3 linked regions of the Homo sapiens genome follow. The protein of the gene in region 3 interacts with the protein of the main gene of each other region in a pairwise test. Each region holds a gene or a part of one and is shown on either strand. Other genes may lie near its edges.

Region 1 (7,892 bases), on a different chromosome or scaffold from region 3:
GTTGAATAATTTGAGGGTAATATTGTGTTTTAGAATATACTAAATGCCTCTTTAGCATTTTTGGGTGAAATCTGATCAAATTTTGGGTGAAATCTGATCTGATGAAATTTCACCAAATGTTCAGTAAATAAATATTGCTTATTTATTTAGAAATTATTTTGCAGTGGTGGCTTGTGATTGAGGATTTTCGAAATACTTTAAAGGAGAAAATTATGACATCAAAATGAAATAATGAGAGTAAAATCTCAGTGAAATACAGTTTCCTAAACCAATCACTTTTTTCTTTTGTACTAAATCGATCTTTCCTAAACCAATCACAATGAGCATTAAGAATGGTTTTCAGAATATTCAGGACCCATCATCTATGGTGTAAATTGGTCCCAATTTCATACTCTTAAACCTCAAGCTTTTTGGAGTAAAGTCAAAACTCAACAAAATGGAGGTTTCTTTTCTCCTTTTCTTTCTTTTCTTTTCTCCTTCCTTCCTTCCTTCTTTTTCTTTCTTTTTGTGACAGGTATTGTTTTATTGCCCAGGCTGAAGAGCAGTGGCTCAATCTCAGTTGACTGCAACCTCAGGGTTCAAGCGATTCTTCTGCCCAGTCCCCTGAGTGACTGGGATTACAGGCGTGTGCCACTACTCATGGCTGGTTTTTGTATTTTTAGTAGAGATGGGGTTTCCCCATATTGGCCGGGCTGGTCTCCAACCTGATCTACCAGCCTTGGCATCCCAAAGTGCTGGGATTATAGGTGTGAGCCACCATTTCTGGCCTCTCTGAGGTTCATTTTTCTATACAAAAGAAAAGGGTAGGATGTAGTGCCCTGTGAGTTATGCATGCATCTGACAATTTTACCTACAGATCTGAGAGCTCTCTTTGTGCCTCAGGTTCTATTTTTGTCTTATGCAAAATAAAGCCTATTCTACTCTAGACAGAAGTGTATCATTGAGTCACAACCTGAGTCAAATTTTGCTTTGGTCTTTGTTTCTCAGGGCATAAGATGAAGAAGTTTGAATCATACCTTTCCTAATTTCCTTCCTTCAGGAAATTGGTCTCAGACATCACACAAGCCTTCCAGAAAGAAAGAATCCATCTGCCTCTTCTGTCTGAACTAATGTGTAGACCCCATTGCCACAGGCTGCAGCCCCAGCTTCTGTAGGCCCTGTCTCTGCCTTTCCTAGGAAGAAACCAAAATTCCTACCTGCTGCCCACATGCTGGGAACTGTCACAGCAGGAGGACTTCAAAACCAATATTCTTCTGAAGAATCTAGTGTCCGTTGCCAGAAAAGCCAGTCTCTGGCAATTCCTGAGCCCTAATGAACAAATGCGTGGGATCCACAGGGAGACAAAGAAGATATTTGGAGAGGTGGAAAAAGAGCCTGATTCATTTGCTGTGCTGGAACTCTCAGGAGCATGGGGTTCACACACACTGTGAGGGGCAGCTAAGGAACACTGGGTAAGTGATGGCTCTGAGAGCACTTTGAAAGCTGGAGGATGGCACAGGTAAAGAGATTAGGGGAAGATGAAGAGCATGATGATTAATCTGCTCTGTACTGGATGTCGTGTAGTGCCTAGGTATCAATGATAAAATAATAAATATAATCTGAGTGTGCTTTCCTTCCTGGAGCTTACATTTCACTGAGGGAGTGATGAAGTTAATAATCATTGTAATAATTTGACTACTTGATGCAGTGTTCAAGGCACTGTAAAGAGCTCAATATCAGAAGAGTTTCTGGCTATCCAAACTACAAGTTAAAAAGTCTTTTCTATAAGAAACCTATTTACCAACACTGGAAATAATAGAATAAAACACGTTAGAATTAGCAGGGCACGGTGTCAGTAGATTCCAATTCTGATGCAAGGTGCCACATTATCTGTAAATTAGCCCTGCCTATGATTTTCCTATTAAACTTGCTGCGTTACACGTTGTGGTTCTACAGTCCGAGATCTTCCCAAATCTCTTTCATATCTCATCCCTTGATTTCTTTATCACTGGGGGTCTGAAACCTAAAATGATTTGCTTCTCTGATGTTCACATTCATAGTTCTTTTACAGGAGAAGATTATGAAGCAAATGAGATGTTTGTGGGCAAAAATTCAAGAAAACCAAAGAAATTTAAATGAGGAAAGCAGGAAAACCAACCAGTGGATTGCAAGTATTAGGCCTTTTCCCTCAGAGTTAGCCTCAGACAGACATGCTAGAAATGTATCCACTTATCACTTGAATGGAAATCATCTTGGTAGATTTGAGGAAGATTTTTCTCATGGCTTCCAATCCTGAGGGTACAATGCAGCATTGATTAATGCTCAGGGAGAGTGGTCAAGCTATGGAGTAGGAAGACCTGGTACTAAAAACTAATTTAAAAACACAGAGATCATAACACTGCAAAAAATTATTTGTGAATCAACCATAAATTCCAATGGCTCTCATGTAGGCTTTCAGATATCAATGGATATATATTGAAGAAACGATCAATAATAACCTTTCTTCAGGTGTTTTAGGAAGTCATATAATGAATGAAAGTGGTTTGAGGAACGAATGAATTTGGCTTTCAGTATTATTAAGAAACAATACAAATAAATGAAAGGAAGACAGGAATGATCTATTTCATGGTTCTGTCAAGTGGGAAGACACGAGTTTATGTACTTAGCTTATTGGTAGAATACATGAGTCAGGCTAGGCTCAGTGGTTCATGTCTGTAATCCCAATACTTTGGGAAGACCACTTGAGACCAGGAGTTTCAAACCAGCCTGGCCATCAACATAGTGAGACCCTGATCTTTATTATACAGAAAAGATGAAAGAGATAAAGAAAAGGAAATGAGTCAAAGTGAATAGAAGAGGTATAAGTGGAGGAGGATGAATTCAGAGTAAATATGTCATCTAGGAAATCTAGGTCCCTGCAGTGCTATGTGTAGCTATGGGCAGAGATGACTACAGCTGAGTAGAGGAAGCTGCATTCAGTTCCCCATGAGAAGTAAAACAACACTTAGAGAAACTTACAACCATGATGACAGAAAGATTTTACAGCAACTTAAGAAAAGCAAAAAGACAAAATGGTTCAGAAAAAAAAAACACCTAAGAAAAATCTATAAGGAGCTGATAAAAATGTGCCATAAACTAGATATGGAGCTGCTCCAGGAAAGAACCAATAATATGCCTAAAAAAATTTTGTAGTATTTGAAGTTCATACCTTACAACAAGCTTGCCCAACCCACGGTCCGTGCGGCCAAGGACGGCTTTGAATGTGGCCCAACACAAATTCCTAACCTTTCTTGAAACATGAAGAGATTTTTGTTTGTCATTTTATTAAAGCTCATCAGCTATAGTTAATCTTAGTGTATTTCATGTGTGGCCCAAGACAATTCTATTTCTAATGAGGCCCAGGGAAGCCAAAAGATTGCACACCCCTGGCTTAGGTGATATTATTTATTCAACACCATAGATATGTGTGTGTGTGGGGGGTATATATATATGTATATGTGTGTATACATACATATATGTACCATATATATCATATATGTATCTCCTGCTTCTAAGAGGGAGGAACTTTTCCAAATAGAAATAACATAGGTGAAATGTAATTCTTATCCTAACCATGAACAAGCAAGCTTTTTTGGAATCTTTGAGTGGATGTAATTTTATATTCCCCTTTATCAAACACTGACCACAGGGAATATTCCCCTCTAATAAGCTTCTTTTGTAGCTTTTTTCTGAAAAACTGGACAAATGTAATGTGGGAGTCAGACAGCATGTGTCACTAAGCTGAGAGCAGTGACATATGCAGGTGACATTCGCATGTCCTGGCAGCATTGTCCAGCAAAGTCTTCCTTTCTTTGGGGATGGACCCTCCCTCCTCACCTGGAGCAGCTCCACGTCAGGCATGAGGCACGTCTCCCACAGCTCTCTGTACATGTCTTTCATCCTTTCTAAATGTTGGGTCATTCTCACTTGACTGTCTTGTAGTTGTTGGAAAAGCTATTTGGCTTCGCTGTCCAGTGCCTGCAGATGAAGTTGCTTCTCCTCATCGAGAAATAGATGCATCTTTTGATATTGAATATTGATTATCACCTTACTTAATGACACATAGTTCTGCGGAGACATTTGGTTAAAAGGATTACATACTCTCACTCTCAACAGAAAACTTCAAATAATTATATGCTGGGTGTAATCAAGCAATCTATAAACTTTCTGCCTCACTCTTGCAAGGAGTCTTGAATATTTGTTATTTCTTTCTGTCCTTCTTTTTCAATGTTCCTATTCTCTCTCCCTCTTTAAATCAAAACCTATATAAAGACTTCTAGTTTCTCTTCCTGAGATGCTTCTTCACAGTTCTTACTGAGTCAACTATCTCCTCTATTAATCTCCCTTTTAGGATTTTTCCATGTCTGATTCGCCTAAATATTAAAAAACATTTAGCCATACACCATATTATGCAGATTGATTTTTCCTTTTACTGTATTTTTACTCTATATACTATTTTATATACTATTCTATTTCTTTCCTCTTCCTTACACCCAATCTTGGTGAAATGTCTCATCTCCAGTGTCTGAAAAGGTTTATACCAACCTTCAAATTTGAACTAGAATACATATCATACCATTTATCCAATAAACTAGAATTAATTTGGTTAGCTTGTGTGGGCTTCTCTATTTGCAATTCCTATTATATCAATTATATCAAACCCCCTCTCTACTAAAAATGCAAGAAAAAAACTAGCCAGCGACAGAGCCAGACTCCTTTCAAAAAAAATAAATAAATAAAGATAAAACTTCTGTTCTGAAGAAACTTAATCATCTATGTTAACACCCACCTACGCCCTGTGAAATGCAATCAATTGGAAGAAAGGGGTGTGGTCTTCAGAGATTTATAAACCGACACTTCAGGAGCCAAGCTCATTCTTCTCCAGAGCCCACAGAGTAGCTTTGCAACTGGCTTTGGGGACTTCCGAAAGCTACCAGCACTGCACTGTGAGACTCTCATCCCTGAGCTGAATTCATCTGATTCGACGGCAAGCTTTGGTGAGAACATAGATATATTTCTGAGGTAAGTACACAATTTCCAGAGTAGGAGCTACTATTAGGAGCTACAAACCAAAACAAAATTTGGGGACTTTAATTTATCTGCAAACTTAGATTATTTTTAGATGAAATGATCTCATTTTCTGAGTTTTAAAAACGGCTCCATTTCTTTTTTAAAATTATTTTAAACATAATCCATAGGTTTATGGATTAAACATGGGCCACCATGTTCAGCTATTTATTTATTTGTTTATTTATTTATTTTGAGATGGAATCACGCTCTATTGCCAGGCTGGAGTGCAGCGGCGCTCTTGGCTCACTGCAACCTCCGCCTTCCAGGTTCAAACGATTCTTCAGCCTCGGCCTCCAGAGTAGCTGGAAATATAGCCGCCTGCCACCACGCCCAGCTAATTTTTGTATTTTTTTTTAGTAGAGACGGGATTTCACTATGTTGGCCAGGATGGTCTCCATCTCTTGATCTTGTGATCCGTTCACCTCCGCCTCTGAAAGTGTTGGGATTACAGGCCTGAGCCACCGCGCCCGGCCTTTTTTTTTTAAATTTATATAAGTATTTTTAGAGACAGGATGATCTAGACACTTTGCCGTGTCACCAGTCTAGAGTTCCTGAGCTCAAAAAACCTGCCTGACGGCCTCCCAAAATGCTGGGATTACAGGCTTGAGTCACCTTCCCTGGCTTGGTTTTTATTTTTATTTGTATTTTAGCAAAACATACATTTAAAACGCTGACTTACTGTCTAGTGCCTAGTTTTTGTTTTTTTTTTTTAGAGGGGAGACAGAGTCTTGCTCTGTTACCCAGACTGGAGTGCTGTGGCACTATCTCGGCTCACTGCAAGCTCCGCCTGCCGGGTTCACGCCATTCTCCAGCCTCCGCCTCCAGAGTAGCTGGGACTACAGGCGTCCTCCACCACTCCCGGCTAATTTTTTGTATTTTTTAGTAGAGTTAGGGATTCACCATGTTAGCCAGGATGGTCTTGAGCTCGTGACATCGTGATCTGCCTGCCTCAGCCACCTCGGCCTCCCAAAGTGCTCGGATTACAGGCGTGAGCCACCGTGCCCGGCCTCTAGTGCCTGTTATTGCATGATACTTACTCTTTTCCTGACTGTGTGAAAGAGTAATGATAATGCTTCAATTATCATTATCTTTTTGTAAATTGAATTAATTGTCTTTTAAGGATGTTGTAATATTAACTAGTATATCCCCAAATTAACAGACTGTCCAGGAACAGTAAACATGCCAGAAAGTTTTTGTTGATTAAATTAACATAGTAGCCTAGAAAAACAATGATTCTTAGCTTTACCTTGGAGAGGTGCCTTACCTTGATTTGACTGTTTTTCCTTGGAGAGTAAAGGCTAGCTTTTTCTGATTTGGGTCAAAGTATGAGTTCTGCTCTAACATTTTCAAGCAATGTCCTTCTGGAAAAGTCATTATGGATGGTTGTTATAGTTAAATAAAATAATGAGAGTAGAAGAGCTTAGTTAGCTTTCCTTCTTTAAACCAATCACTGGCAATTAAGAGTGTTACTGATTTTCAGACCATTCAAGACTCAAACCTTGAGTTTACAGGTTGATGAAACCCTTGAAGCCCAAGCAATTTGGTGGATACTAACACCTCAAAAAATCCGACATTCTTCCATGCAAGAAAGTAGAGTTTGGAAAGCTGGTCATGTGTTGATTGGAGAACAGTCACTTTTTATAGAGGTTGATGTCTCTTTGTGCCTTAGTTTTCTGTTTTTCCTATTTCTGTCATTGCAGATTAAAGCCTATACTTCTTTAGAAAGAAAGGATATTATTCGATCACGATCTGATTCAAACTTTGCTTGGATCTTTGTCTCTCCAGGGTAGAAGATTAAATTCCTGTGGTTTTCTTTCCTTAGGAAAATGGACTCAGACTTCTCACATGCCTTCCAGAAGGAACTCACCTGCGTCATCTGTTTGAACTACCTGGTAGACCCTGTCACCATCTGCTGTGGGCACAGCTTCTGTAGGCCCTGTCTCTGCCTTTCGTGGGAGGAAGCCCAAAGTCCTGCAAACTGCCCTGCATGCAGGGAACCATCACCGAAAATGGACTTCAAAACCAATATTCTTCTGAAGAATTTAGTGACCATTGCCAGAAAAGCCAGTCTCTGGCAATTCCTGAGCTCTGAGAAACAAATATGTGGGACCCATAGGCAAACAAAGAAGATGTTCTGTGACATGGACAAGAGTCTCCTCTGCTTGCTGTGCTCCAACTCTCAGGAGCACGGGGCTCACAAACACCATCCCATCGAAGAGGCAGCTGAGGAACACCGGGTAAGAGATAGCTCTGTGATCACCTGAAAGCTGGAGGGTGGCAGAGTTAAAGATATTAGAAGGATGATGAGAATCATGGTGATTACTCCATTCTTTACTGAGTGCCAGGTGCTGTTCTAGGTACCAATGATGACATTTTGAATAAAATGTGCAACTCTACCTTCCTTCATGGAGCTTGCACCCAAAAAGAGACTGATTAAGTAAATGTCATTATTATTGACTCTACAGTTCAATGCTAATGACATTGAAAAGCTACCAAAACTACCAGTGCAAAGAAAGGTATTTTGGAAATATATTTAATATTACTGGACAAATGAGTATGGGAGTAGCACACTACAAAATCAGGGGCTAGCATAGTGGGTTCTGAAGCAGGATGTTTCCCTGAACTAATTTAGCTGGGTTACAGGAAATCTTCACTCTTCAGTTCCCTAAGCTGTTCTACATTCTGAAACCTCAAACTGAAAAATATCAATTAAGGATGAGCAATGAAAAATTTTGTTTTTTTCTCCTCTCACTAATGTATTTATATATTATCCCTTGCCTGTGTATACCACTCAGATTGTGGAA
Region 2 (7,068 bases), on a different chromosome or scaffold from region 3:
AAGATCGTGCCATTGCATTCCAGCCTGAGTGACAGAGCAAGACTCCGTCTCAAAAAAAAAAAAAACAAAAAAACACAAAAATAACAGTCTAGGCCAGGTGTGGTGGCTCATGCCTGTAATCCCAGCAAGTTGGGAGGCTGAGGCAGGCAGATCACAAGGTCAGGGGTTCGAGACCAGCCTGGCCAACATGGCAAAACCCCATCTCTACTAAAAACACATAAATTAGCTGGGCGTGGTGGCGAGCGCTTGTAATCCTAGCTACTCAGGAGGCTGAGGCAGGATAATCACTTGAACCCGGGAGGCAGAGGTTGCAGTGAGCCGAGATCATGCCATTGCACTCAAGCCTGAGCGACGAGCAAGACTCCATCTCAAAAAATAAATAAATAGGCTGGACCTGGTAGCTCACACCTGTAATCCCAACACTTTGGGAGGCCAAAGCAGGTGGATCACAAGGTCAGGAGTTGGAGACCAGCCTGGCCAATATGGTAAAACCCCGTCTTTTCTAAAAAAAAAAAAAAATACAAAAATTAGCCGAGCATGGTGGCGCACACCTGTAGTCCCAGCTACTCGGGAGGCTGAGGCAGAAGAATCGCTTGAACCCAGGAGGCAGAGGTTACAGTGAGCTGAGATCATGCCACTGCACTCCAGCCTGGGCGAAAGAGCGAGACACCTTCTCAAAAATAAATAAATAAATAAATGTTTGTTTGTTTGTTTGTTTGTTTTTGAGGGGAGTTTTGCTCGTTGCTCAGGCTAGAGTGCAATGGTGCGACCTCGGCTCACTGCAACCTCTGCCTCCCGGGTTCAAGCAATTCTGCTTCAGCCTCCTGAATAGCTGGGATTACAGTCAGGCACAACCACGCCTGGCTAATTTTTTGTATTTTTAGTAGAGATGGAGTTTCTCCATGTTAGTCAGGCTGGTCTCAAACTTCTGACCTCAAGTGATTCAGCCACCTCGGCCTTCCAACTTGCCGGGATTACAGGCGTGAGCCACTGCACCTGGCCAAAAAACAGTCTTAATACTTTAGAATCCTGTCAGAGGCGTATGAACCAGAGCAACTCCATCTCGAATAGGGGCTGGGTAAAATGAGGCTGAGACCTATTGGGCTGCATTCCCAGACAGTTAAGGCATTCTAAGTCACAGAATGAGATAGGAGGTTGGCACAAGATATAGGACATAAAGACCTTGCTGATAAAACAGGCTGTAGTAAAGAAGCCGGCTAACACCCACCAAAACCAACATGGCCATGAGAATGTCCTCTGGTCATCCTCACTGCCACACTCCCATCAGCACCATGACCGTTTACAAATGCCATGGAACAACAGGAAGTTAGTCTATATGGTCTAAAAAGGGGAGGCATGAATAATCCAGCCCGTGTTTAGCATATCATCAAGAAATAACCATAAAAATGGGCAACCAGTAGCCCTTGAGGCTGCTCTGTCCGTGAAGCAGCCATTCTTTTATTCCTTTACTTTCCTAATAAAGTTGCTTTCACTTTACTCTATGGACTCGCCCTGAATACTTCCTTGGGCAAGATCCAAGAACCCTCTCTTGGGGTCTGCATCAGGACCCCTTCCCTGTAACACCTTTCTGGCAACCACTGAAGGGACTATAGTGCAGAAACCCCCAACCCAAAGGCTAACTCTGGGTAAGTGTTGGGGTCTGGTAACAATCATATGTAACATCCGACCCCAAAAAATCATGAAAAGTGGTTAAAACACTAGAGCAGGCTGGGTGCAGTGGCTCACACCTATAATCGCAGAATTTTGGGAGGCCAGGGTGGGCAGATCACTTGAGCCCAGGAGTTTGGACCAGCCTGGCTAACATGCTGAAACCTCATTTCTACTAAAAATACAAAAATTAGCCATGTGTGGTGGCGTGTACCTGTAGTCCCAGCTACTTGGGAGACTGAGGCAGGAGAATGGCTTGAGCCTGGGAGGCATAGGTTGTAGTGAGCAAGAGCATGCCACTGCACTTCAGCCTGGGCAACAGGAGTGAAACCCTGTCTCAGAAAAAAACAACATCAACAACACGAGAGCAATCGGATTTAAAACATACACTCCTTGGCCAGGTGCGGTGGCTCATGCTGTAATCCCAGCACTTTGGGAGGCCAAGGCGGGCGGATCACCTGAGGTCAGTAGTTGGAGACCAGCCTGACCAACATGGAGAAACCCCGTCTCTACTAAAAATACAAAATTAGCTGGGTGTGGCGGTGCATGCCTGTAATGCCAGCTACTCGGGAGGCTGAGACAGGAGAATTGCTTGAACCCGGGAGGCGGAGGTTTCGGTGAGCCAAGATCATGCCATTGCACTCCAGCCTGGGCAACAAGAGCAAAACTCTATCTCAAAAAAACAACAACAACAACAAAATACACCCCATTTCCCAGGAACGAGTGTTTTTTGTTGTTGCTGTTGTTTTTTCCCCGCTATTATGATGAATCATTTCAGCTACCTACTTTTTGTTTTAGTTTGTCAGTTTGATTGGATTTTGCCCCATGGGGAAGGAAAGGAGAGCAGGATGAGGGGCACAGCCAAGGCCTGGAATCCTGGCACTCACCTGCAGTCTGAGGCAGGTAACTTGGGCAGCTGCCTCTGAGGTGGTGATTTCCCTGAGATGTGGGGGCAGGAGAGAATTGGACAACCAGAGGGAAGATTGGTCTAACTGCAGCAGATTGGGTAGATAAGATAAGTGAGGCCCTGAAATGATCACATGCAATGGAAAAGTTCTTTAAAAAAAAAAAAAATTTTTTTTTTTTAATTAGCAGTCATGGTTCTGAGGTTTGGTTCCATGTGCCCTTTCCGTGTACTGCCTTCCGAGGTCCTGATTCTCACAGTCCCTTATTGGTTCCAATGGCCCAGGACCCCAGTCCTTGCCACCAGCATGATGGATCTTGTGAGTAGTCCTAGTTCCTACTCAGACCTGATCCAAAGGAGAAGTGGGCAGAGACCCAGGTTCCAGCTCCAGCACCAGCTGCCTCTGAGCCATTTCTGCTTCCTACCAGGTGAAGCTCCTGGGAGGGAAGGGGCCCAGGACCTGGAATGATAAAGCTCCCTGGAAAGCCAGCCATGGCCAGTCTGCAGCCCCTGGGGACTCTGTGAGAGTCTGGATGCAGACAGGCCAGGGGCTGCCACCTCAGGAAAGCTGAGGACCTCAATGTCCACTGGGAAGAGATGGGAGGGAGGCATGGTTCTAGGAGGGTACTGCTGGTCTGCCCTTCCATTCATCTGGGAATCCATTTCCTTGTGGAAAGTGCAATCAGAGAGGTTCTTCACATCCTTACAACAGTCTTAGTGGCCCCTTCTCTTTGGACTCTCCCAAGATGCAAAGAGTGTTTCCGGAGATTAGTAGGCTCAAGAAGGGAGGGGAGTTAGCAATAAATTTTGAACAATCTTCAAACACTTTGGGTAGCTCTTAAGGATGAACTTGTTCAGCTTCTGAGACAGGTGTGTGACAAGTAAGACTGTGACTGATCTTCAGAAGAGCCCTGAGAACAGGAGATCACCAGCAGCCAGGAGCTGTGGAAGGTTGCCTTGGGGGAGCAGGGGTCCTGCTAACCCAGCATAACTTCTATTCTTAAGGTAGTACCCAGAGCAGAGGTTCCCAAAACATGAAACACAGATGAGCTCCATCAAAATCACCTGAAAGCTCCATCAAATTCACCTGGAAAGCATCGATAGCCAAAGCCTGCCCCCTCTGCAGCCTCCACCCACTGAATCAGAAGAGGGTCCCGGAGATCTGCATTTCACTCTAAAAGGCAACCTCCAGTGCTCCTTAGACTTGCTTAGAAAATACTGTAAATCTGAAGACTTATACAACTCTAAGTGTCTCAGAAACTCAGGGTGAAGAATCACAAGTTCTCTACTACCCTGCCCCATTTTTAATCACACTCATCACAGACCACAGAGCACCTGGCAAACCCAGGAACGGTGGGTTGAAGATATGTTTTCTTCTAGCAGATTAAGAGCTGAGCAGAGTTTCCTGTGCCCTGTGCTTCATTAGCACATTGGTGGTGTCGTTTCCGGTGACTGACTCTCTGTTTCCATTCTGGCAAAGTGGTTTGCTCTTTTCACTCTGCTTTGGGTGTTGAAGGAAGACGAGCTTCTCACGGAGCCTCTCTTGAGCCTCTTGGCAGTTTCCCCCTCTGTGCCCCTCACGTTTCCACCAGAAACGTGAAGGCAGAGGCCACAGATTCTCCCTGAGCCACCTCACTTGGAAGCACCATGTCCGGATGAGATCGCACTTCCTGCAGTGGGCATTAGCCACGTCCAGGTAGAACCAAACCTGTTGCTTTTGTATGTTGGGTCAACTTGGCCTGACGTTTCAGAGGTAGACACGAGATAGGGAGTTTGTTGCGGGGGTGGGGAGAAGTGGTAGACATGCTGGCTAACTGATTATGATTAAGAGAAACTTAGAAGCTGAAGCCAGAGAGCATCTCAAAGGTTCCTGATACAATGGATGGTGTCACTCCAACCCTTTCGACAATCAGAGGGAGGACCTTGGAGTCCAGCACTCTGCATGTGACTCCCCGCAGCCTGGACAGGTGAGTGACTCAGGGTGGTGAGCTCCACCCTGCCCTGATTTAGGCAGAAGGTCCTAGTCCACCCTTAGGAGCTTCTTACACAGCAGTGCTGCCACCTCTCAACACCCAGGCTCGGTCTACTAAACCACCAAACTCTAGGCTTGGAGGCATTTGCTCAGGGGTGCTAGGGGGAAAGGAAGGTATTGAGGAAAGAAAGAAAATATTGTGGTAGAGGAAAAACTGTGATAACACTGGCCCTTAAAGCTAGTTGCTTAGACTGGTTGGATTTCTCACCTCTCGGAGGCCCTGAACCCTATCATCAGTCTTTCCTAGGTGTCACCATGACAGAAACAAAAGGCTGAGTTTTCCAAGGATGTGTTTTGAGATCCAAAAACTTGTCATGAATAAAAAATGTAGTGATAGATGTAATAAAGATACGTCCTTAGGACGTAAAATCTTACAGAACTAATCATGGGTATGAATTACTGCTACTACTTTCAATCTCATACAAACAAAATTAAAAATCCATCCACAGTTGAAACTTTAAAAACATTGGCAGCTGACTGGGCGCGGTGGCTCACACCTGTAACCCCAGCACTTTGGGAGGCCGAGTGGGGCGGATCACCCCCACTCTTGAACCAGCCTGGCCAAGACCAGCCTGGCCAACATGGTGAAACCCCGTTTCTACTAAAAATACAAAAATTAGCCGGGAGTGGTAGCATGCTCCTGTAGTCCCAGCTACTCAGGAGGCTGAGGCAGGAGAATCACTTGAACCCGGGAAACAGAGGTTGCAGTGTCATGTCATTGTACTCCAGCCTGGGCAACAAAAGCGAAACTCTGTCTCAAAAAATAAAATAAAATTGCAGTCGTTTGGGGAAATAAATGTTATTATCATGGCAAACACATGTCACTTGCTGGTAGATATGAGCATCAATGAGCAATGAATCAGAAGCCTGAAGCATCTCTCCAAAACTATTTCTTCATTTATTTTTATTTATTTCTAATTGGCAAATCAAAATTATATATATTTATCATGATAGCCTGTTGTTTTGAAATATGTATACATTGTACAATAGCTACATTAAACTAATTAAGATACACATTACTTCACAATTTTCTTTTGTGGTGAGAATACTTAAAATTTCTCAGCAATTTTCAAGAATATGACACATTTTTATTAACTATAGTCATCAACACTTTTTTTGTTTTGTTTTGTTTGTTTTTTTTATTTTTATTTTTTTAGACAGAGTCTCGCTCTGTCGCCCAGGCTGGAGTGCAGTGGCGTGATCTCGGCTCACTGCAGCCTCCACCTCCCAGGTTCAAGCTATTCTCCTGCTTCAGCCTCCTGAGTAGCTGGGATTGCAGGCATGTGCCACCACCCGCGGCTAACTTTTTTTTGTATTTTTAGTAGAGATGGGGTTTCTTCATGTTGGTCAGGCTGGTCTCGAACTCCCTACCTTAGGTGATCCGCCCACCTCTGTCTCCCAAAGTGCTGGGATTACAGGCATGAGCCACCGGGTCTGGACCATCAACACATTTTTATTAACTATAGGCATCATGTTATACAACAGATCCCTTGAATTTTTCTTTCTCTCTAACTGATATTTTGTACCCTTTGACCAACATCTCTGCAACCCCTCCCTGGTAACCACCATTCTACTCTCCACTTCTTTTTTTTTTTTTTTTTTTTTGAGACAAAGTTTCACTCTTGTTGCCCAGGCTGGAGTGCAAGGTTGCAATCTAGGGTCACTGCAACCTCCACCTCCCAGGTTCAAGCGATTCTCCTGCCTCAGCCTCCCCAGTAAATGGGATTACAGGCATGAGCCACCATGCCTGGCTAATTTTGTATTTTTAGTAGAGTTGGGGGTTTCTCCATGTTGGTCAGGCTGGTCTCGAACTCCTTACCTCAGGTGATCCGCCCACCTCCGCCTCCCAAAGTGCTGGGATTACAGACATGAGCCACCATGCCCCGCCTTGGTAGTTCTATTTTTAATTTTTGAAGAACCTCCATAGTGTTTTCCATAATGGCTGTACTACACTTAAAACTATTTCTATATTAATTCATTTGTTTATTAATTCATTCATTTAACAAATATTTATCAGGGCCCTACTAAGTACCAAGCACTGTTTAAGGCACTAGGTGAACAGGATAAACAAGTCCATAACCTCCTGAAGATTATAGACAAGTGGGAGAGTCAAATAATGAACAGAGCTGAGCGTGGTGGCTCATGCCTATAATCCAAGCCTTTGGTAGACCAAGGCAGGAGGATCAATTGAGCCCAGGAGTTCAAAACCAGCCTGAGCAACACATGGAGACCCTGTCTCAAAATTTTTTTTTTTTAAATAAAAAAATGATAAACAGATAAGCATATGAATGTATAATATCAATCAATCGGGCTGGGTGAGGTGGCTCACGCCTGTAATCCCAGCACTTTGGGAGGCCAAGGTGGGCAGATCACCCAAAGTCAGGAGTTCGAGACCAGCCTGACGAATATGATGAAACCCCATCTCTACTAAAAATACAAAAATTAGCCAGGCGTGGTGGTGCGT
Region 3 (6,876 bases):
CAGTGTTTGGAGAACAGGCTGGGGGCTGGGATTGCAGGTTCTCCCAGGTCTCAGCCCGGCCAAAGGGGTCTGCTGGGTTCCTGCGGAGAAGGTGCCAGCCCCACCTCCACCTCTAGTGCTCGTCTTTGCCTGCTGTCCTGTCTTTACTTGTCTTGAGTGTCTGTGCAGCCCCTATAAGTGATAAGACATGGGTGAGATTGGCCTTGCCTGGGGGTACCAGGTGCCCTCAGACAAATGGGTGGATAGGACAGGTGCACAGTAATGGATGATGCGGCCCCCGCACAGTGCTGAGAGAGAGTCATTCAGTCTGAATGTGGAAGGCCAGGAAGGCTTCTCAGAGGAGGTGGCTCTAGCACTGGGGCTTCAGGAAAGAGTTGGGCAGGAGGATGGCCTGGGGAGGGTACGCAAGGTTTGGGGGCTGCTGGGGCCAGGACCCCTACCCCAGGCCCTGCTCTCCCCCTTGCACTGCAGCGGAGCCCGCTCTCCTGCCTTTCTGACTCCCATCCTTCCCCACCTCCTTCTCCCCTCTGCATCACTCATCACTTGGGCAGGCCAAACCTCGCCAAGTATGAACAGGCTCTGGCAACTGGGTCTGGCAACAAAGTGCTGGAAAAACCCGGGGCACAGCCCAGCGCAGTGAGTGCCCCACACGTGGAGGCAAAGGAGTGGGCCTTTGCCCTGACCCTGAGGGCTGAGCCTGAGAGTCTGTGGGTTGTGAAATCTGTTGTGACCACCAGGCTTGTGGTGGGTGGACCCTCAGCTCTTCCTGTGAGCAACTTTGTGCTAAAGAAAGAGCACTGGAGCCGGGCGTGGTGGCTTACGCCTGTAATCCCAGCACTTTGGGAGGCCAAGGCGGGCGGATCAGGAGTTCAAGACCAGCCTGGCCAACATGGTGAAACCCTGTCTCTACTAAAAATACAAAAATTAGACGGGCGTGGTGGTGGGCACCTGTAATCCCAGTTACTCGGGAGGTTAAGGCACGAGAATTACTTGAACCCAGGAGGTGGAGGTTGCAGTGAGTGGAGATGACGCCGCTGCAAAAAAAAAAAAAAAAAAGGAGAAAAAAAACAGAAAGAGCACTGGACTTGGAGTCTAAACACAGGTTCTACTCCCGACTCACCTGTGACTGAGGGCAAGAATGCTTTCTTCTCAGAGACTCGGTGTCCCCTTTTGTAAAATGAGGCTCATTCTGTCCTTCCCCAAGGGCTTCAGGGAAACTCCAGTTAGAGCAGTGAGGTGCTAGGTAAACTCTGAGGGGCACCCTAACCGCCGTGTGAGGTCAGGAGGTCTGAATTCTCTCATCCCCTCTCCCCAGGACAAGGGCACACAACTGGTTCCGTTAAGCCCCTCTCTTGCTCAGACGCCATGGAGCTGGATCTGTCTCCACCTCATCTTAGCAGCTCTCCGGAAGACCTTTGCCCAGCCCCTGGGACCCCTCCTGGGACTCCCCGGCCCCCTGATACCCCTCTGCCTGAGGAGGTAAAGAGGTCCCAGCCTCTCCTCATCCCAACCACCGGCAGGTACGATGGGGCGTGGGGCTTGGGGGAGGTCAGTGCTGGATAATACACAGAGGCTTGCAGGCCACTGCTCCCTTCCCCACACCTCTCTCCCTTTTTCTTCTTGCCACAGGAAACTTCGAGAGGAGGAGAGGCGTGCCACCTCCCTCCCCTCTATCCCCAACCCCTTCCCTGAGCTCTGCAGTCCTCCCTCACAGAGCCCAATTCTCGGGGGCCCCTCCAGTGCAAGGGGGCTGCTCCCCCGCGATGCCAGCCGCCCCCATGTGAGTTGTCCCTCAGAAGGGAAGGGAGGGATGCACGGGTTCTGGGTCTGTGGGAGATACACAGCCGCTTCCATGGAGGCAGGGGATCTTGGTTAGGAGTCCCTGAGGGTCTAGCAGGTGCGGAAAGGGAATGAATCACCCTTTGCCTCCCCTCAAGTCGTGTGCAATTCCTGGGGCGCAGGTAGTAAAGGTGTACAGTGAGGATGGGGCCTGCAGGTCTGTGGAGGTGGCAGCAGGTGCCACAGCTCGCCACGTGTGTGAAATGCTGGTGCAGCGAGCTCACGCCTTGAGCGACGAGACCTGGGGGCTGGTGGAGTGCCACCCCCACCTAGCACTGGGTAAGTCAGGTGCATGGAACTATCCGGGCTGGGAGATGATGCCTTGCATCTTGGGCTAGGCATGTGGCTCATCCAGGAGATCTGGTTGATCTCCAATAACCCCTGCTTTTTGCCCTTGTCCCCAGAGCGGGGTTTGGAGGACCACGAGTCCGTGGTGGAAGTGCAGGCTGCCTGGCCCGTGGGCGGAGATAGCCGCTTCGTCTTCCGGAAAAACTTCGCCAAGTACGAACTGTTCAAGAGCTCCCCAGTGAGTGCATGAGGGCTGTCTGGGCGCTGGGATGCCCTGATCCTCAACCTGGATGCTGGAGCCCTGATCCCTGACACTTGTCTACCCACAGCACTCCCTGTTCCCAGAAAAAATGGTCTCCAGCTGTCTCGATGCACACACTGGTATATCCCATGAAGACCTCATCCAGGTGGGGGGACCCCCCATTTCACTGCAGATTCACGACTCCCCAGCATTGGCCAGTGCTTCTCCACCCTTAAGTCCTGTGCCTCCCCTCTATGTTGTAGAAAGAGCCAAATCACAGTCCTGTGTGACTGGGGACAGTCACTTTCCCTGCCTGAGCATCAGTTTCTTCTATTAAATGGGGGCGAGAAATGCATGTGGAGCATTTCCTTGTAAAAACCTGAGGGTGGGCTGGGCACGGTGGCTCATGCCTATAATCCCAGCACTTTGGGAGGCTGAGGCGGGAGGATTACTTAAGCCTAGAAGTTTGAGAGTTTGAGACCAGCCTGGGCAACATAATGAGACCTCGTCTCTCCAAAAAAAAAAAAAAAAAAAAAAAAAAGGCCAGGAATGGTGGCATGAGCCTGTAGTCCCAGGTGCTTGGGAGGCTGAGGTGGGAGGATCACTTGAGCTCGGGAGGTCGAGGTTGCAGTGAGCTGTGATCGTGCCACCGCACTAGCATGAGACCCTGTCTCAAAAAGAAAAAGAAAAAGAGAAACATCCTGGTGGTAGAGGGGAAGGGAGGAGGTCAGACCTGTCACTCTCCTCTGCTCTCCTCTGGCTCAGAACTTCCTGAATGCTGGCAGCTTTCCTGAGATCCAGGGCTTTCTGCAGCTGCGGGGTTCAGGACGGAAGCTTTGGAAACGCTTTTTCTGCTTCTTGCGCCGATCTGGCCTCTATTACTCCACCAAGGGCACCTCTAAGGTAAGGTCTTGAGGGTACCAGCCCCAGCCCCTCCAGTCCCTGGTCCTTTTAGAAGTTGCCCCTTCTCTGCTGGAACCTCTGAGCCCTTCTCCCCCTGGGCCCCCCAGGCCAGCCACCTCCAGTTTACCATCTCTCCCTACATCCTTGCCTAGCTCACCTGCCCAGGGAGGTAGCAGGAGAAAAGATGATCTTAGTTTAAGTCCTGGCTCTACTTCTATTTGCTGTGTGACCCTGGGTATTCCCCTGCCCCTCTCTGGTCCTGAAATCTCCCCACCTGGCTTGTGGGGGGAGGTAATAGTGGGCGGGATCTACCTGTACCAAGTCCTGCTCACTCATGCTGCTTAGGATCCGAGGCACCTGCAGTACGTGGCAGATGTGAACGAGTCCAACGTGTACGTGGTGACGCAGGGCCGCAAGCTCTACGGGATGCCCACTGACTTCGGTTTCTGTGTCAAGGTGAAGACCTGGCCAGGCCTGGCCCCTGGCCTGGGGAAGCAGGAACTGCTCAGGCCCCTGGATCCTGCCCGGGGCTTCTGAGCCCCAATTCAGACACCTAGACTCCTCTCCCTGCACCCTGGCCTGCTGGAAACTCCTGGATTCAGCTCTGCTATGTGGAGCAGGGGCAGACATGTGGTCCTAAAGGCAGATATGGGACCAGTCAATTTCCTCTCTCTGCAGCCCAACAAGCTTCGAAATGGCCACAAGGGGCTTCGGATCTTCTGCAGTGAAGATGAGCAGAGCCGCACCTGCTGGCTGGCTGCCTTCCGCCTCTTCAAGGTGAGACCCTGGGAGTGGCATGGGGGGCTGGCCTGGCCAGAGGGATCCCCAGCTCTGCCCTCAGGAAGTCTCAGGAATGAGGAGGGCATCACAGCCTTGCTCTCTGATAACCCCCAGTCCAAGCCTGAAGTTATAGGAAGTGCCCATCGAAGGCAGAAACACAGCCCTGGTCTGGGCAAGTCCTGGTCTGAGGGGGGCGTCACAGCCACGCCCCCAGGACCTCTCGACCTCAAGCTCTCTTTCTCTCCCCACCCCCAGTACGGGGTGCAGCTGTACAAGAATTACCAGCAGGCACAGTCTCGCCATCTGCATCCATCTTGTTTGGGCTCCCCACCCTTGGTGAGTGTGCCCAAGGGGATGGGAGGGTGGGTATGCAGGCCCTGTCTTACGGGTACCTGGGCCCTGTTCTGACCTCTCTCCTCTCCTTCCATCTCCAGAGAAGTGCCTCAGATAATACCCTGGTGGCCATGGACTTCTCTGGCCATGCTGGGCGTGTCATTGAGAACCCCCGGGAGGCTCTGAGTGTGGCCCTGGAGGAGGCCCAGGCCTGGAGGGTGAGGCCTGCTGTGTGTGTGTGTGTTTGTGCTGGGGACCCACTCTCTGGGTGGGATCCCTGAAATAGGAGGGAGGAAGAGAGGGCGGGGGGAGGCCCCTGGCTGGGAAGAAGTGCTCTACCTTCCTGAGGTGCTGGGTAATGCCCCCAAGCACGCCCCGACTCTCCCGTATCTCCCACTGCTCCACAGAAGAAGACAAACCACCGCCTCAGCCTGCCCATGCCAGCCTCCGGCACGAGCCTCAGTGCAGGTGGGTGACGGCCCCGAGTCCTGGGGCGGGGGCTGCCTCAACTTCTCTTTGTATTCCCAGTGGGGAGTAGATGGTATAGGGGTCCCCTCCCCAAAGTGACCGCCCATGTCCTTCCCCACCACAGCCATCCACCGCACCCAACTCTGGTTCCACGGGCGCATTTCCCGTGAGGAGAGCCAGCGGCTTATTGGACAGCAGGGCTTGGTAGACGGGTAAGGGGCAGGGCCGGGCAACAGACCCAGGGATAAGAGAGACTGGGGTCCAGGTGGCAGCCATGGTCCTTGGGTAGTAATGCTGCCCCATCTCCTGTCTTCTGGCAGCCTGTTCCTGGTCCGGGAGAGTCAGCGGAACCCCCAGGGCTTTGTCCTCTCTTTGTGCCACCTGCAGAAAGTGAAGCATTATCTCATCCTGCCGGTGAGCTTCCCTGCGTCCCCGGAGTCCTGCAATGAGACACAGGACTCCCAGCAACCTGTCCTCCTCACCAGGCCCCTCCAGAGGCTCCCTGGCCCCCAGTGCGTCTCCCTTTTCCCTGCACAAGAAGTGGGAGGCTGAGTGCGGTGGCTCACACCTGTAATCCCAGCACTTAGGACGGCCAAGGTGGGAGAATGGCTTGAGCCCAGGAGTTCGAGACCAGCCTGGGCAACACAGGGAGACCCCATCTCTACAAATAATTTAAAAATGAGCCAGGCATGGTGGTGCACACCTGTAGTCCAGCTACTCAGGAGGCTGAGGTGGGAGCATTGCTTGAGCCCAGAGGGTCAAGGCTGCAGTGAGCCATGGTGGCACCACCACACTCCAGCCTGGATGACACAGTGAGAAAACTGTCTCAAAAAAAAAAAAAGAAAGAAAAAGAAAAAGAAAAAAGAAAAGAATAAAAGGAAATGGTGGGGCCCTGGCCCAGGAGGGAGCTTCCCAAGCCTCGGGCCCCTCCCTGAACTTCCACCCCCTTTACTGTACCCCAGAGCGAGGAGGAGGGCCGCCTGTACTTCAGCATGGATGATGGCCAGACCCGCTTCACTGACCTGCTGCAGCTCGTGGAGTTCCACCAGCTGAACCGCGGCATCCTGCCGTGCTTGCTGCGCCATTGCTGCACGCGGGTGGCCCTCTGACCAGGCCGTGGACTGGCTCATGCCTCAGCCCGCCTTCAGGCTGCCCGCCGCCCCTCCACCCATCCAGTGGACTCTGGGGCGCGGCCACAGGGGACGGGATGAGGAGCGGGAGGGTTCCGCCACTCCAGTTTTCTCCTCTGCTTCTTTGCCTCCCTCAGATAGAAAACAGCCCCCACTCCAGTCCACTCCTGACCCCTCTCCTCAAGGGAAGGCCTTGGGTGGCCCCCTCTCCTTCTCCTAGCTCTGGAGGTGCTGCTCTAGGGCAGGGAATTATGGGAGAAGTGGGGGCAGCCCAGGCGGTTTCACGCCCCACACTTTGTACAGACCGAGAGGCCAGTTGATCTGCTCTGTTTTATACTAGTGACAATAAAGATTATTTTTTGATACACCTATGAGTTCTGTCTGGCAAGGCCTGGCTGGCTGAATCAAGAAGGGAACCAGAGCTGGACGTGGTGGCTCATGCCTGTAATCCCAGCACTTTGGGAGGCCAAGGTAGGAGAATTGCTTGAGTCCAGGAGTTTGAGACCAGCCTGGGCAACATGGCAAGACCCTGTCCCTACAAAAAATAAAAAAATGAGCCGGGCATGGTGGTGTGCACCTGTAGTCCCAGCTTCTCAGGAGGCTGAGGTGGGAGGATCCCTTGTTCCTTGAGCCTGGGATGTCAAGGTTGCAGTGAACTGAGATTGTGCCGCTGCACTCAGCCTGAGTGACAGAGTGAGACCCTGTCTGGAAAAAAAAAGAGGGGAGACCTGGAGAGGTGGGCACCTGTGGAGGCCTTGGTGGAAGTGTCAAATGGATCGAGGCCATGTCTCAGCCTGCCTGGATGTTCCTCAAGGGCAGGAGTGGTTATCTGAGAGTCTCCAGTGCCCACCATGCAGCTTGACACATAGTAGGCGCCCAGTCATTGCTAATTAA

Evidence for each region. The genes of interacting proteins can lie anywhere in the genome.
Region 1: the proteins of GRB7 (region 3) and TRIM43 interact in binary tests that used the Homo sapiens proteins (3 or more experiments, as listed by UniProt).
Region 2: the proteins of GRB7 (region 3) and LAX1 interact in binary tests that used the Homo sapiens proteins (3 or more experiments, as listed by UniProt).

The regions. Positions count from the first base shown.
Region 1 is NC_000002.12:95,587,110-95,595,001, forward strand, and holds the start of TRIM43 (tripartite motif-containing protein 43), read left to right. Parts: upstream 1-4,891; 5' UTR 4,892-5,040; intron 5,041-6,910; 5' UTR 6,911-6,914; coding exon 6,915-7,325; intron 7,326-7,892.
Region 2 is NC_000001.11:203,761,116-203,768,183, forward strand, and holds the start of LAX1 (lymphocyte transmembrane adapter 1), read left to right. Parts: upstream 1-4,067; 5' UTR 4,068-4,227; coding exon of another isoform or gene 4,228-4,268; 5' UTR 4,269-4,450; coding exon 4,451-4,539; intron 4,540-7,068. UniProt on the Homo sapiens protein: Negatively regulates TCR (T-cell antigen receptor)-mediated signaling in T-cells and BCR (B-cell antigen receptor)-mediated signaling in B-cells.
Region 3 is NC_000017.11:39,740,937-39,747,812, forward strand, and holds the end of GRB7 (growth factor receptor-bound protein 7), read left to right. Parts: intron 1-1,315; coding exon of another isoform or gene 1,316-1,365; coding exon 1,366-1,520; intron 1,521-1,629; coding exon 1,630-1,780; intron 1,781-1,961; coding exon 1,962-2,118; intron 2,119-2,243; coding exon 2,244-2,365; intron 2,366-2,456; coding exon 2,457-2,534; intron 2,535-3,133; coding exon 3,134-3,271; intron 3,272-3,616; coding exon 3,617-3,727; intron 3,728-3,949; coding exon 3,950-4,048; intron 4,049-4,165; coding exon of another isoform or gene 4,166-4,306; coding exon 4,307-4,387; intron 4,388-4,485; coding exon 4,486-4,602; intron 4,603-4,791; coding exon 4,792-4,852; intron 4,853-4,976; coding exon 4,977-5,064; intron 5,065-5,172; coding exon 5,173-5,266; intron 5,267-5,814; coding exon 5,815-5,961; 3' UTR 5,962-6,349; downstream 6,350-6,876. UniProt on the Homo sapiens protein: Adapter protein that interacts with the cytoplasmic domain of numerous receptor kinases and modulates down-stream signaling. Promotes activation of down-stream protein kinases, including STAT3, AKT1, MAPK1 and/or MAPK3. Promotes activation of HRAS.